2 separate regions of the Homo sapiens genome follow, and region 2 is linked to region 1. Evidence: fine-mapped expression QTL. Tissue or cell type: cerebellum. Region 1 holds a variant in brackets; the other region holds the start of a gene. All regions are shown on one strand. Distances are between the middles of the regions.

Region 1 (8,000 bases):
GCAGTATTGCTTGAGGCCAGGAGTTTGAGACCCACCTGGGCAACATGGCCAGACCCCATCTCTTAAAAAAAAAAAAAAAAAAGACACCTCTGCACTAGGATCTGTACTAGGCATCTATGGACATCCTGCTGCCTGGAGGGTAGAAGAGCCCCCTGGCTGCTCCCTACACACTGCCTCCACTGCATTGCCTGTGTGTCTGGCAGCAGGTGGGGTGGGCTCTGGTGGCCTTTTGAAGATGAGCAGTGGTGCAAGTCCTGACTTCCCTCCCCCTGGCCTGCTCTGACACCACCCAGCTGGGAGCGGGGGTGGCAGTTCAGACTCCTTCACTCAGTCTTTGCTGGCCTGGCTGGTTTTCGGCTGGAGTAGAGCAGTTACTGTCTGAAAGCTTTCCATCTTGCTAGGCAACCCCTTTTCTGGTCCTCTGGCTAGAGAGAACTGGCTTCTGTTAGTGCGTGTATTGTCTGTACCCATTGGCACTGCGTGCTTGCTGACTTCTTCAGCTCCAAGTCTGGGCCAGGGTACGTAGCACTGTGTTACTTCTTGGGTCTCTAGGTCCCTTGTTGGTCTTCCTTCTCTCTGCCTTCCAGAGTCTTCTTATGTCTTTTATATAATGTCCAGATATATATATAATTTTTTATATAATGTCCAGATAATATTTTTATGTAACGTCCAGAGCTTTTAGTTGTACTTATTGGGAAGAATTGGGACAAGTACATCTACTCCATCTTCCTGAAAGTAAATGCTCTAAGTATTTTTCTAAATGGTGATTTTTTTCCCCCTAAGAACATTAAAGTGGGTGAAAAAATATTGAAAATTGAGAAGTAGGTATGTTAAAACTCACAGCACTATTTTAGGCTTAAATATTTCATATACCAAAAACATGATTTATTATAATTTTATTTTCCTGGCTTTAATGGAAGCAAACTCATCAAAACATATTTTTCCAAGTCTACTTCTAGAGAAAGAATAACCGCTAAAAAGACACCAGCAGGGCACAGTGGCTCACACCTGTAATCCCAGCAATTTGGGAGGCTGAGGCAGGAAGATCATTTGAGCTCAGGAGTTTGAGCCCAGCCTGGGCAATAGAGTGAGATTTTGTCTTTAGTAAAAATAAATGAAAATTAGCCAGGTATGAGGGTGTGCAACTCTAGCCCCAGCTACTCAGAGGCTGAGGCAGGGAGATTGCTTGAGCCCGTGAGGTCGAGGCTGCAGTGAGCTACGATCATGCCACTTCACTCCAGCCTGGACAAAAGAGCAAGACCCTGTCTCAAAAAAAGAAATTTAAAAAATACAATAAATAAAAATGAAAAAATACACCAAAAAATACATGGGGCACACATGATTACTTATGCATGAGCCTTCTATATGGTGGGGCACAGCTCTGTTGGATCCTGTCTTTATTTAAAGTTTCATTCATTGTGGATATTTTTTGCATTAATTTTGATTTTTAAAAAATATTGCATTGAAATATTACTTATTTTGGCTGGGCACGGTGGCTCACGCCTGTAATCCCAGCACTTTGGGAGGCCGAGGCAGGCAGATCGCCTGAGGTCAGGAGTTCGAGATCAGCCTGGCCAACATGGTGAAACCCTCTCTCTATTAAAAATACAAAAATTAGCCAGGCATGGTGTTGGTCACCTGTAATCCCAGCTACTCAGGAGACTGAGGCAGGAGAAATCACTCGAACTCAGGAGGCGGAAGTTGCAGTGAGCCGAGATCGTACCACTGCACTCCAGCCTGGGCGACAGAGTGGGACTGTTTCAAAAAAAAAAAATTGCATTGAAATATTACTTATTTTGATGATTGAGATTTTTGGCCTCCCCTTAAGTTTTGCATGCAAGGTAAGGGCCTCATGGGCCTGGCTGCAGTCCCAGGCTGAGCTAGGCACTCCACAATATTTTGTTTGGGTAAAGTGATGGGTGGGCTCTAGAGCTCCCTCACAGCTGTATCCTTACCTCAAAGGGGCAGATTAACTTAGATTTACAGAAACGACAGCTGAGGAGGTAAATCTGAGTCCCTCTGGAGGTGAAGGTGCTTCTGAGATGGGACCTTCTATAAATAGGTTATAAGAACTTGCAGAAACGAGGGCCCCGTTGGGCACAGGCCGTCCTGCACATACTGAACATTCCACTGGGGTGGGGCCTCTGCTCTCCCACTCCCAGTGCACCTCTGAAAACGAAGGTCCCAGAACCCGCATGCCACCGGGACAGGAAACGGAGCGGCTTCCAGGGCTCATGGGAACTGGTCTAATATTAGCAGTGTTTTTCTCATCTGGCCCTTGGGACGTCTCTATGGGGTAGGTGTTGTTATCACTCATTTCACAGATGAAGCAGCTTGGGCTGCCCCTGGGGAAGAGTGGATGCCTAGCTGTCATCCCAGATCTCTGCGTGTCATCCCGCCCTACCCCATCCTGCCTCACCCTTCATTCTGTGTCCTCTCCTGTGCCAGCTCTGGGCACATACCCAGGAATGCCTGGAACACCTTTCTGCTGCCTAGGCTGTAGGCTCAGACACCCCGAGAACAGCTTGATGTCACTCTATTGCCCATCCCTGGTCAAACACAATGTCCTTCCTCCACCTTCCCACCAGCCTGCCTCCTGCCCCTGGCTATATTTAGGACTTTCTACAGTCTTTGCCACCAACCCCTTCTTAGGGTTTGAAGAGGGGCCACATCAGATATCTTTGGAAACCCATGGCAGGAGTGAGCTTTTCTCTGGGCACCTCTTATTTCCATCCTGTATCCTGGGTCTTTCCCACCTACTCAGGCTTTGGGTAAAAAGGCCAGGCTATTAGAACATCATGGGGGTGGCGAGGCCTGCAGGAGGGTGGCTTACCACCCATTCCGAGAAAAAAAATCCATGCTTGATAAAGCCTCCGGGACTCTAGTGGTAAAGTTATTAGTCAATCTTTCATCAGTGGTTCCTGGCCTTTTTATCCCAAACAACCTTTTATTTTTATCCTCCTAAGGTTTTAGCTTCTCTCCAAATAAAACTTTCTTAAGGACTACTTTTGTAGTTTTTAGGTAGTGAAAGATTCATCTAATATTTCTGATCAGCATGAAATAACCAGTTGCTATACCAAAAGCAAGGAAATTTGATGCTTCATTTATTCTGTAATATTCCATACACGATTTTAAATTATAATAGGCCAGGCGCCGTGGCTCATGCCTGTAATCCCAGGACTTTGGGAGGCCAAGGTGGGCAGATCACTTGAGCTCAGGAGTTTGTGACTAGCCTGAGCAACATAGCAAGACCTCGTCTCTACAAAAAATGCAAAAATTAGCCAGGCATGCTGTCATGCACCTGAAGTCCAAGGTGCTGTGGAGGCTGAGGTGGGAGAATCGATTGAGCCCAGGAGGTCTAGGCTACAGTGAGCCATGATCATACCACTGCACTCTAGCCTGAGTGGCACAGTGAGACCCTGTCTCAAAAACATAAACATAAAATAAAAATAAATAAATTATTACGGGTGCAGTGGCTCATGCCTGTAATCCTAGCACTTTGGGAGGCCGAGGCGGGCAGATCACTTGAGGTCAGGAGTTTGAGACCAGCCTGGCCAACATGGCGAAGCCCTGTCTCTACTAAAAATACAAAAATAAAATAAAATAAAACGAGCTTGGTGTGGTGGCAGGTGCCTGTAATCTCAGCTACTCAGGAGGCTGAGGCAGGAGAATCACTTGAACCCAGGAGGCAGAGATTGCAATGAGCTGAGATCAGGACACTGCACTCCAGCCTGGGTGACAGAGCAAGACTGTCTCAAAAAAATAAATAAATAAAAATAAATGAATAAATTATAACAATAGCTTTAGGTCCCCCATTATCAGGGAAAAGCCTTTAGAGATCATGTTGTCCAGCCCCTTCCTTTTTTAGACAGGAGAACTTACTCAGAGATAATAAGTAAATGACATACAGTTTATACAACAAAACTTCCTTGGGAAATGATGCTTTGCTTTTCCTGGGAGACCATTTAGTGTTAGGGTCAGGAGGAGCTATGGGGAGGTGAGGGCAGCCAGATGCAAGGGGAGTAGAGGTCTGGGCTGTGCCTGAGACTCTCACAGATCCTTCCCCTTCCTGACTTCCCAGGTCTGGTGTGACCTGCGTCAGGTTTCAGGGAGCTGGGCTGCAGACTGCTGATGCTCTAGTGCCTAGACCTGCAGCCTTGCTGTCTTCTCCCACCCCAGCTTGAGGACCAAATACCACTCTCCTCTCTGTTGGAGTGGATTTTTCTCCTAAAACCAAAGGAGGCACTCTTCTTCCCCAATCTGAAGTTTTTGTATTTTGCTATTACAGACCTGCTCTCTGGTCTCTAAATCTGGATTCCCAATGTACCCTGGGTGCCATAGAGTTGGCAGTTACTTTCCTGGGGGAAGAGGGTAGGACTTCAATGTTCTGAAAGTGACAGATCTCCGAGTTCCAGATATGGGTGTTCAGCAAATTTCTCAGTCTCTTCTAACAGGCCCTGCTTTGCAGGTGACCCGGCGCTTTGGGATCCCAGGGCTGAAGAAAATCATGGACTGGTTTGGCTACTATGGAGGCCCCTGCCGCGC[C/A]CCCTTGCAGGAGCTGAGCCCCGCTGAGGAGGAGGCACTGCGCATGGATTTCACCAGCAACGGCTGGCTCTGAGGGCAGGCAGGGTCCATGGCTGGCCTGAGCCCATCTCAGCCTCCTGCCTTGCACTTGCAGCCTGAAGCGGAGAGCACAGGGGGATGAGGGTGGCAGGCAGCGGGGAGCCGATAGAGGCTCCTTTGCCTGCTGTGGTCCTCCAGGCAGCCTTTCACAGGCACGCCCATGCATATCTCCTATTCTAACGGCCCCTGACCTCTCCCTTTTGGATCCTAAACTGTGTCTCTGGTCTGAAGACTGGGAAGGAGCAATTTCTCAATTTATCTTTCTACTGTGGATGCTTTCCTACGCCCTGAGGCACATGAAGTCAGAAAGGAAGGGCAGAGGGGCAAGTAGGCACAGTAAGGGAATTTTCTTTTCTTTTTTTTTTTTTTTGAGACAGAGTTTCACTCTGTCACCCAGGCTGGAGTGCAATGGCATGATCTCGCCTCCTGGGTTCAAGCGATTCTCCTGCCTCAGCCTCCCGAGTAGCTGGGATTACAGGCGCCTGCCACCACGCCCAGCTAATTTTTGTATTTTTAGCAGAGATGGGGTTTCACCGTGTTGGCCAGGCTGGTCTTGAACTCCTGACCTCAGGTGATCCAACTGCCTCGGCCTCCCAAAGTGCTGGGATTACAGCTGTGAGCCACTGCACCCGGCCGGGAATTTATCAAAGGGGGGACTACTTAGATTTGGGGCTTCAAACCTGAGTCTAGCACAATGCAGCTGGAGGCCAGGGCTACTCCTACAAACCCAAGTTCTGACTCCTTCCAGGGAAGTATCAGCTTAAGAAACTTGATCAGGAAAGTGACACTGGTCTTTCAAAGAGCCCTCTTTACCCTCCCATCCCTGCCCTCCACACTGCAAGCTGCATTCCAGCCACAACGCCCTTTTCTAAATCTATTTTCATTCATCTCCTATTCTGGTCTGTAGCCTTGATTCCAACCATTGAATGCACGGAGACAGCCCAGTGGCTTGTCAGATTGGTAAATAATGACACCTGGTGGATAAATGTTACATTCTAGAAGACTATTCTGGTCAGCCTAGGTCTGAAACACTAAGGAGACTTGGCCTGAGATAGGGCCATCCACTTGCCTACAGGCACTCTGCTTTTATTATTAAAAATAGTCACTTTGTTACTATAATAAAATTTAACAGAAAAAATTAGTGTGGCTATATAAAGATGGACACTCTATTGCTATGCAGATCTTAGGTTTCCTGGCCAGATGTCAAGAACCTTTCTAAAGGCAAAAGAGCTCTGATGGTCTGCCTTCTCCCAGCTCGAAGAGTGTCCCCAGCAATACTGAGCCAACAGGCATTCACTTACTGGAGACCTGGGGAAGGGGTAAGAGGCAAAAGAGAGCAAGTGAGCTATTTAGAAACAAACACTTAGCACTTTTATTTTATTTTTTTGAGACAGAGTCTTGCTCTGTCATTCAGGCTGGTGTGCAGTGGCACGATCTCGGCTCACTACAACCTCTGCCTCCCAGATTCAAGTGACTCCCCTGCCTCACCCTCCCGAGTAGCTGGAATTACAGGTGTTCACCACCATGCCCGGCTAATTTTTGTATTTTTAGTAGAGACAGCGTTTCGCCATGTTGGTCAGGCTGGTCTCGAACTCCTGACCTCAGGTGATCTTCCTGCCTCGGCCTCCCAAAGTGCTGGGATTATAGGCGTGAGCCACTGCACCCCTTCAGCATCCTTTTTGATTAAAGTGCTAAGTGTTTAGGGCCAGGCAGCACTTTGGGAGGCGGAGGCAGGAGGATCACATGAGGTCAAGAGTTTGAGACCAGCCTGATCAACACGGCAAACCCCATGTCTACTAAAAATACAAAAATTAGCCGGGCGTGGTGGCACACGCCTGTAATCCCAGCTACTCAGGAGGCTGAGGCACAAGAATCGCTTGAACGTGGGAGGTGGAGGTTGCAATGGGCCGAGATCGTGTCATGGCACTCCAGCCTGTGCCACAAGAGCAAAACTCCATCTCAACAACAACAACAAAAAAGGATGCTTTCTCCAAAATATTTAACCTTTTTCAGTGGTAATATTTGACTAGTGGCAGAAAAATGGAGATACATTGTAAAAAAATTACTCCTTAAAAGAAAGTGTAAGGTTAAAAAGAGAGGTAAATAGATACTTGTTTAGGGCAGAGGCTAAAGGAGAGAAAATAAAAGATCTCAATCTTCAACCCAAAACCAGGCTCTGAATGGCACTACAGCTTGGGGCTTAGTGCCTGGGGTCCTCTCACAGGCAACTTCCAGAGGAGCAAGGCTCAGAGGAGAATCAAGTTTAGGACTTGGGGGAAAAGTTAGGGCTAGGCAGGCAGGGTAGTGCACTGGGTAAGAGCTCAGCCTCTGGGCTTAAACAGGTCTGGGTTTAAGTTCTGGGATCTGCCCCTTAGTGTCTATGGGACCTTGGAGAAACTGCTTAACTTCCCTGAGCCTCATCTGTAATACAGGGATAATAATAGTACCTTCCTCCAACAAGGACGTGCATGTAAAAGGGTTAGCGTGGGGGTCAATGTTCCACCACTCTCCTGTTGCAGAAAAAGGGAAACTCCGGCAGGAGTGGACCTGCCAGAGGTAACCCAGCAGGTGTGGCCATAACTAGTCTCAGGACTTAAGTACTCTGATGCTCAGGGTGAGAGAGGTCCAGTAAAGGGAGCTGGAATCAGAAAGGCTCGGTTACAAATCTCACCCAGCTGTGCTACCTACTAGTTGGGACAGCCTGAGATTGTCTGATTTAAATAAGAAAAAAAAGTTCATACGTCCTCCTCTGTAGAGGCTGAGAAAATTAGATGACTTGATAAAGTGTGCAGGGTCAGTTCCAAGGGCTAACCCGATTAACTTTTACAAACAGCAAATGGGTTGATATTCATGAAGACGCAGGGCCAGAAAGTCAGGAAAACTAGGTATAGGCAGTTCTGGTGATTTCTTTATTCTTTATAAACACCTTTTTCTACAGTACAATTCAGAGAATAAATAGAGGCACACGGCTATAACTTCCACCACAATCTGCTGTTGAAGAGACATTCAATGTGAGGCTAGGGAGCTAGAGGTGGGGGACGTATTTGGGTACCAGGGTAACGGGAGGCCTACGTAATAAACTGCAGAGATCCCATCAGTAAGGTCTGATTGCGGCCTGACGGTCAAGGCTCATGATAGAAGAGCTACAGTGAGCCAAATGCTCCTTTAGTTCCCCACAGTCCTAGAGTAGGTCCAATTCTACCAAAACCCCAGGGGTTCGGGTGAGTCTGATTTATTGGTCCACTGGGAAGAAACTGTGTCAGCCCAAGCCATCCGTATGAATTCAGTTCACTCCATGGTAGTGCCTGAAGTGGCCTAAATATTCTACCCTTTTCCCTGGAGTTAGTCACAAATACAAGTAATAAGATTACTGTTTA
Region 2 (8,000 bases), 22 kb before region 1:
ACCTTGTCACTTGGTGCAGATGTGAAGGCATGTGGCTGGGGTCACGTGGCAGCCCAGCCACAGTCCCAGTTCCCTCCAAAGTTTGTTTGTACATTCTCTTCTGGACAAAGCCTCCTTGCCAGAATTAGTTCTCCTGTGACCCCTTGGCTCCTGTGACTCCTGTTGTGGCTCCTGTGACCCCATCTCTCTTTACACATGGGTCTCCCCAACTCTGAGGTTAGGGACCAGATGATATTTGCAACAATCAACATGTAACAGAGTCCCAGGCACAATAAATGAAGGTAGAAGAAAATGTCAAATTCTGCCTGCCCTGCTCCGCCCATCCCCATTCCTTACTGCACAATCCCCTGAGGCAGTGCTCTCTGTAGGACCATCCCACAGATGGGAATCTGGGCCTCAGAGTGACATGGTCACTGCCCAAGGTCATTCGGCTAACACATAGCTGAGCTGAGGTTTGCACCTCGTCTGACTGCATGGCCCATGCTCCATTTTACTCCCTCGCTGACTCTCATTATAAACCCTTTGGAGCTGCTAGGCCACACTATTTCAACGGAGTGTCTGGTCAGCACTAGCTTTGTTGTGGCTGCTATTGAGGCAGTATCGTGTAGACTGTGGACTCTGGTTTCAAATCACAGCTCTGGAGTGAGCGCCTGTAATCCCAACACTTTGGGAGGCCGAGGCGGAGGGATCATGAGGTCAGGAGTTCAAGACCAGCCTGGCCAACATAGTGAAACCCCGTCTCTACTAAAAATGCAAAAATTAGCTGGGCGTGGTGGTGTGTGCCTGTAATCCCAGCTACTCGGGAGACTGAGGCAGGAGAATCGCTTGAACCCGGGAGGCAGAGATTGCAGTGAGCTGAGATCATACCATTGCACTCTAGCCCGGGCGACAGAGCAAGACTCCATCTCAAAAAAAAAAAAAAAAATCAAATCACATCTCTGGCACTGACTTAGTGTGGGATGATTGCTGTCCCTATCGGACACATGGGAGTGATAATGCTCATATTATGGGATGGTTGGACAAAAAAATCTGAGAGAATGCAAGTGAAATCGTGCTATAAATTGTGGAGTAATATACATTGGAAGGTACTGATTCCAATGGTAATAATGATTAAAATGACAGTGTGATTGGCATTGCAGCAAAGCTGCTTTGTGACTGTGACCCCTGGCCTGATGGACACGTTGATCATTCATAGCTCAGTACTGAGGGAATGTGCCCCTTCCTTGGGGACAATGAATGCCCTGTGGAGGGCCACGTTGAGCAGGGCACAACTGTTAGGTTTCTGCTGGTGCTTGGCTCGTGGGGCCTGGAGGTTTGGTGAGGTCCTGGTTCTCTTGAAGTGAGAAGCATTTTGAGCCTCTAAGTGAAGACCTTACTTCAGCTTCAAGGTTCAAGGATGCTCTAGTTCAGGGTGGGGAGGGTGGACTTTGCATCTGGTGTTTGCCTGACACCCAGAGAATCCACAGAGACCCCCAGACTCTTCTCTGGACCCTCCCTTCTGGGCCACCCACCCACTCTTGCAGAGGGCATGGGGTGCCCAGGAGCACAGGCTTCCGTGGATTTAGCAGGCTGTGGGCTGCACATACCCACTTGTCTGTCTCCCTCGCAACCTATGCAGGCTCCAGCTCCCATCTGATCACTCACCCACACACCAGAGAGCCAGCGGGGTGTGGTAGGAAGAGCCCAGCATCTTGAGTTAGAGGACCTGGGCAAGAATCCTGCCACTTCTGCCAGTTAACAGAGACCTTGGGGAAACCACTTAACCTTTCAAATCCAGTCCTCATTTTAGAATAGGAACTGAGCCTTCAGGCTTCTAGCCACAGGGTCAATATAATCCTCCCAAGGCACTGTCACAGAAAACACAGAGATAGAGGGTCCCTTCCCTGCTTCCAGGGTGCAGCCAAAATGCCCAGGAAGGAAGACACAAACAACTTTAGCTCTGAAATCTGTGTTTCTCTTGCCCTGTCCTGGCCCCTGAGGTAGACTTTGCAGCCCAACACTCAGGCTGAGGAGGGAACGTATCACATTGTAAGGGCCTCCTGCAGCCAGTTAAAGGTCCTCTGAAGAGGAGATGAGGGCCAGGCACAGTGGCTTACTCCTGTAATCCCAGCACTTTGGGAGGCCAAGGCAGGAGGATCTCTTGAGACCAGGAGTTGGAGACCAGCCTGGCCAACATAGTGAGACCCTGTCTCTATTAAAACAAATAAATAGGAGGTGGAAAGCTGCCCTGGATGAATCAGTGAAGAGTTAGAGATTCTTCTGGAAAGCACTCCCTGAAACTGTGTAGCTTTTTTTTTTGAGACAGAGTCTTGCTCTGTCGCTCAGGCTGGAGTGCAGTGGCATGATTTGCCTCACTGAAACCTCCGCTTCCTGGGTTCAAGCGATTCTCATGCCTCAGCCTCCTGAGTAGCTGGGATTACAGGTGCCTGCCACCACGCCTGGCTAATTTTTGTATTTTTAGTAGAGATGGGGTTTCACCATGTTGGCCAAGCTGGTCTTGAACTCCTGACCTCACGGTCCGCCGGCCTCGGCCTCCCAAAGTGCTGGGATTACAGGCGTGAGCCACCGCGCTGGGCCTCTTATTTATTTATTTATTTTTAAGATGGGGTCTCAGTCTGCCACCCAGGCTGGACTGCAGTGGCACGATCTCGGCTCACTGCAACCTCTGCCTCCTGGGACTAAAGCAATCTGCCCATCTCAGCCTCCCGAGTAGCTGGGACCAAAGGTGCACACCACTATACCCGGCTAATTTTTTGTATTTTTAGTAGAGATGGGATTTTGCCGTGTTGCCCAGGCTGATCTCGAATTCCTGAGCTCAAGTGATCTGCCTGCCTCTGCCTCCCAAAATGCTGGGATTACAGGCATGAGCCACCATGCCCGGCCCCGTGTAGCTCTTTTTAAAAAATCTTTTTAGCATTGCTAATTTGTACTGATTATTTGAATAGAGAGTATTCTTTTTGTTTTTTCTTTCTTTTTTTTTTTTTTTTGTGATGGAGTCTTGCTCTGTCTCCCAGGCTGCAGTGCAGTGGCACGATCTCGGCTTACTGCAAGCTCTGCCTTCCAGGTTCACGCCATTTTCCTGCCTCAGCCTCCTGAGTAGCTGGGACTACAGGCTCCCACCACCATGCACGGCTAATTTTTTGTGTGTGTGTGTGTATTTTTAGTAGAGATGGGGTTTCACCGTGTTAGCCAGGATGGTCTCAATCTCCTGACCTCGTGATCGTCCGCCTCGGCCTCCCAAAGTGTTGGGATTACAGGCGTGAGCCACAGCGCCCAGCCAAGAGTATTCTTTTTAAATAAAAATTATGACCAGAGACTAGAGGAAGGGGTCATTACAGAAGGGCTCTATGGCCCTGAACTCACACCCATAAACACCCTCAAAGATGGACTTTGAATTGTTATTTCCAAATGAGGTTAGCCAACCACAGAACTAGTCCAGCAGGACTGGGAAGATGAGGTTCTCCATAAAACACTTGTGTCCTATTCCTTCCATACATAGAGTGGACCATGCTTTCTTGCAAAGATATAATATTTTGTATATATTAAAACCATTACTCTGTTAAAGAAAATATTTTGTTTAAAGCATCACAATGTTTACAACCCCATTTTGGCATTTCTTATTTTTTTTTAAATGGGCTAGATGCTTTTGAGGGGAAAAAAAAATACAGTGGCCCAGGCCTGTTTATACCCTGAGAGGCCTTGGAGATTAATTAGGCTTTTAGTTGTCTGCACCTATGGAAAGCCTGGCCAGCCAGCCCACCTGCTCACAACCCGAACCATGCCTATTTATGGGGGGGCAAATTCTGGGTTTGTAGGTGCCTCACTAAGGCAAGAGGTAGCAGCTACCATCCCGGAGTGGCCCCAGGGATCTAGACCCGATGAAGTCTCCTGTCCACTCTGCCTTCTCAGCCCACTGCTTGCCTCTCCACCCTCAGCCCATTGTGACCTCATGTTAGTTACTCCAGAATGAGCTCCTTCCTGGGTTCTTTTCCCTCTGAACTCTGCCCTGTAGTGAGGCGAGGGGCTGCAAATGAGGATGGAATATGCCAGGCTGGCAGCAGACATGGGCACTGGATGGAGGTGCACTGGTCTCAGATGGCTAGGAATGGATACCAGCCCAGTCAAGGGGATCATTCTGTCATGGCCAGCCTGACCCAGCATACTTTGCCCCCTGGGGGCCACCAGATGGGGAGAGAGAGAAACCAAAGACTGGAAGATACAAAGGCCTAAGTTGTAGAATGGATTCCAAGCAGAAGGCAGAAGGACTCAGAATTGGAGAAGCAGCCCTTTCACTGAGCCTGGGGACAGCTGTCAGGGTAGGAGACAGGACCCAGGCCTCAGGCAATGCCTGCCAGGCTAGACATGAGGGATGCTGCGGCCTCTCCCCACCCCACTCTCCCCACCCCACCCGCAACTGCCTTCCTCACAATGGGGTTCATTGTTGAGGTGGTGGGGGGCACCTAGGGAGGGTGCAGCAGGGGGCCTGCCTGTCAGACATCCTTGGGGAGCCTGCCCTTTCAAGCATGAATCATACCACCAGAGATCACCCAGCGTGCTCTTAGCTCTGCCTGCCTGGTGTAGGGTCCTGGAGACCTTCTTGGAGCTCATCCAGCAGCCATCATGCAAGGTGGTGCTGGGGACTGCCCTCTTGCTAGGAGGTGGAGGTCTCATGCTGTGGGTTCAGAGAAAGAGGAGAAGAAAGGAAACCTCTGAGTGTCCATCAGACAAGGACAAGTCACCAGAATCCCATAAAGCAAAGAATGAAAGCTGGATTAAATCCCACTTTAGCCGCCTTTCCGAAGAGAAGCTGGCCCTCGACAACAATGCCAGCGCTAGTGGCAATGCTACCCAGACTGAGAGTGGGAGTGAAGAGGTCAGCTCCACGGTTCACATAGAGACCTTCACCACGAGGCACGGAGAAGTGGGCTCCGCTCTGCACCGGGAATCCTTCACCAGCAGGCAGAAGACATCTGGGCCCTCAGTGATCCAAGAGATCCACCAGGAGTCTGGAAAAGCCCCATCCACTGATGAGGCCACGTGGGCCGCTGTGGCTGCCTGCACCAAGGAGATTGACACCCAGGGGCGGCACCTGGCTCACTCCATGCTGCAGCGGGCCATAGCTTACCAGCACTCAGGTCACCTAGAGTCCAAGGACATCAACCAGGAGGAGCTGAGGGCCCTCGAGGAGGTAGAGATGAAGCTGCAAAAGAATTTCCTCACCCAGCGGGAAAACACCATAGCTGGTGCCAATCACACACACACCTTCTATGGCCACAGTCACCACAGTCACCATGGCCACCCAAGCCACCAGAGCCACAGCCTGCCTAATCGCAGACACTAGATCTGTGACTTCTTGGAAGCCACCTAACCATGGATGGAGACGCCCCTGCCCCCAGCAAGGCTGGCTCACACACACGTCTGTTTTCTCTCCTATGGGGCCATCTATGCAGGCCAGGGTGAGATGCTGTGCCCAAATCCCTACTTTCTTAGGCTCCTCACGGGGATTATGGGCTCTTTAAACTCCATGAGTGGGGTCTGCCACAGAAGATGGCCCCTGTTGGAGGGAGAGCTGGGAGGACACAGCGCAGGTGAGATAGACCCTGAGGCCCCTGAAGACCCACCAAGAGAAGACAGATGGGAGCAGGCAAGAGCCCCACACTGATGTCATTGCCTGGAACGGAGCCAATAAAGCTTTGTGTGCCTTCACTCTGAGTCCAGGGGCTCTGTGGGCAGCCTAAGGTCTGGCAGGGATGGAGGGAGGGGGCTCCCTCTCCAGCAGTCCTCTGGAGTGGAGTGGAGAAAAGGCCCCCGACCTGGGGCCTTTTCACTGGGCCTCATTTAAAGCTCCATAAAACAGCTACCCTGGTCTCAGGTTCTGGAAAAGGGGTACCTCTAGACGTCTCAACACCCCCAATCTGATGTTGCCAGGGAAGAGGGGAGCAGCCAGGTATTGGGCTTGGAGGAGAAACAGGCTTTCAGAGGAGAGTAACTAAGCCAGGTGGGAATGAGGGCCCCTGTCGTCTTGGTGCTATCTTTGCTCTCAAGTCATGTGGCATCCTACAAGGCAGTTCTCTCACCAGCCCCACCTGCTTCCTGGGGCCCCTTGGGATCCATGTTAGTACCTCCCCACCACCTAAGTCTACAGCTACTGAGTGAGCACAACACTTTCTTCTTGTTTGTTTAACTTAATTTAATTTAATTTAATTTAATTTAATTTTAAGTTCTGAGTTACATGGGCAGGATGTTCAGGTTTGTTACATAGGTAAACGTGTGCCATGGTGGTTTGCTGCACCTATCAACACGTCACCTAAGGTATTTATTTAGCCCTGCGTGCATTAGCTATTTAACCTGATCATCTTGGGTTCTTTTTTTTCTTTTCCCTTTTTTTCTTGTTTTTTATGTATGTATATTTTGAGACAGGGTTTCACTCCTGCTGCCTAGGCTGGAGTGCAGAGGCGTGATCACGGCTCACTGCAACCTCTGCCTCTTGGGTTCGAGCGATCCTCCCACCTCAGCTTCCCAAGTAGCTGGGACTGCAGGTGTGTGGAACCACACCTGGCTAATTTTTTTTTTTTCTTTTCTTTCATTTTGTGTGTGTGTGTGTGTGTGTGTGTGTGTGTGTGTGTGTGTGACAGAGTCTCGCTTCATTGCCCAGGCTGGAGTACAGTGGCGCGATCTTGGCTCACTGCAACCTCTGCCTCCCGGGTTCATGCGGTTCTCATGCCTCAGCCTCCCGAGTAGCTAAGGCCAAAGGCACACACCACCATGCCTGGCAAATTTTTTTTGTATTTTTAGTAGAGATGGGGTTTTGCCATGTTGCCCAGGCTGGATTACAGTGGTGATATCATAGTTCACTGCAGCCTCAGACTCAAACTGGCAAAATTCAAATAAAGTCCTTAGTTAATGACATTGTACCAGTGTTAATTCTTTGGTTCTGGTCATCATATTATAGCTAGGTAAGACATTATCATTGGTGGAGGCTGGGTGAAGGATGTATAGAAAATCCCTGTACTTTTTTTTTTTTTTTTTTGAGACGGAGTCTTGCTCTGTGGCCCAGGCTGGAGTGCAGTGGTGCGATCTCGGCTCATTGCAAGCTTCACCTCCCGGGTTCATGCCATTCTCCTGCCTCAGTCTCTCGAGTAGCTGGGACTACAGGCGCCCGCCACCACGCCTGGCTAATTTTTTCCATTTTTAGTAGAGACGGGGTTTCACTGTGTTAGCCAGGATGTTCTCCATCTCCTGACTTCGTGATCCGCCAGCCTCGGCCTCCCAAAGTGCTGAGATTACAGGTGGGAGCCACCGTGCCCAGCCAGAAAATCCCTGTACTATTTTTGAAACTTTTCTGTAAATCTAAAAGTAATTCAATATTTCAAGTTAAAAAAAAAGTTTTCAGACAATTTGATTATGAGTGTGTGTCAAAGTTTGATTATCGTTGTAATGCAAGCAAAATGACCTGTAAGCAGCTAACTCAAATATATACTCTTGGTAAGAATATTTTTATTAAAAAAAGAATGGTCAGGCTGGGCGTGGTGACTCCTGTCTGTAATCCCTGCACTTTGGGAGGCCGAGATGGGCAGATCACTTGAGGTCAGGAGTTTGTGAGACCAGCCTGGACAACCTCGTGAAACCTCGTCTCTACTAAATATGCAAAAATGAGCTGGGCATGGTGGTGCCCACCTTAATCCCAGCTGCTTGGGAGGCTGAGTTGGGAGGATTGCTTGAATCCAGGAGGCGGAGGTTGCAGTGAACAGTGATCGCTCCACTGCACTTTAGCCTGGGCGACAGAGTGAGACTCTGTCTCAAAAAAAAAAAAAAAAAAAAAAGAGAATGGTCAGATCACTCACTGTTAAGACTACGTAAAGACAAAGAAGAGTAGTTAACAGCTTCTAGGCTCTTGCCTGAGAGTTGGCTGGGAGGGTGGCTAATTTTCCAGATCAAGTCTTAATTCCATTAAAGTTCATTGGGGGCCGAACACGGCGGCTCACGCCTGTAATCCCAGC

Direction of the effects. Alleles are on the strand shown, and positions count from the first base shown. SD is a standard deviation of normalised expression in the study named.
As copies of C replace A in region 1, the expression in cerebellum of the gene that starts at base 4,493 in region 2 goes up (moderate effect, 0.44 SD a copy in GTEx).

Evidence for each region. PIP is the estimated chance that this variant, and not a neighbour inherited with it, causes the effect.
Region 2: C10orf62 starts here. The variant in region 1 is fine-mapped to the expression of C10orf62 in cerebellum (GTEx, PIP above 0.99).

Annotation. Positions count from the first base shown.
Region 1 is chr10:97,607,042-97,615,041 of GRCh38, forward strand. HOGA1 (4-hydroxy-2-oxoglutarate aldolase 1) reads left to right here. Exons shown (of 7, transcript NM_138413.4): 7 at 4,469-5,761. The coding sequence ends at 4,618. MORN4 (MORN repeat containing 4) reads right to left here. Exons shown (of 5, transcript NM_178832.4): 5 at 7,514-8,000. Among named protein-coding and RNA genes, the nearest start is that of C10orf62, 21 kb to the left of the region's middle. RefSeq lists enhancers at 1-252, 253-752, 5,285-5,504. The variant C/A (reference allele first, on the strand shown) is at 4,546.
Region 2 is chr10:97,585,229-97,593,228 of GRCh38, forward strand. C10orf62 (chromosome 10 open reading frame 62) reads left to right here and starts at 4,493. Exons shown (of 1, transcript NM_001009997.3): 1 at 4,493-5,706. The coding sequence starts at 4,670. The coding sequence ends at 5,341. The region is part of intron 1 of HOGA1 (4-hydroxy-2-oxoglutarate aldolase 1); the gene reads left to right.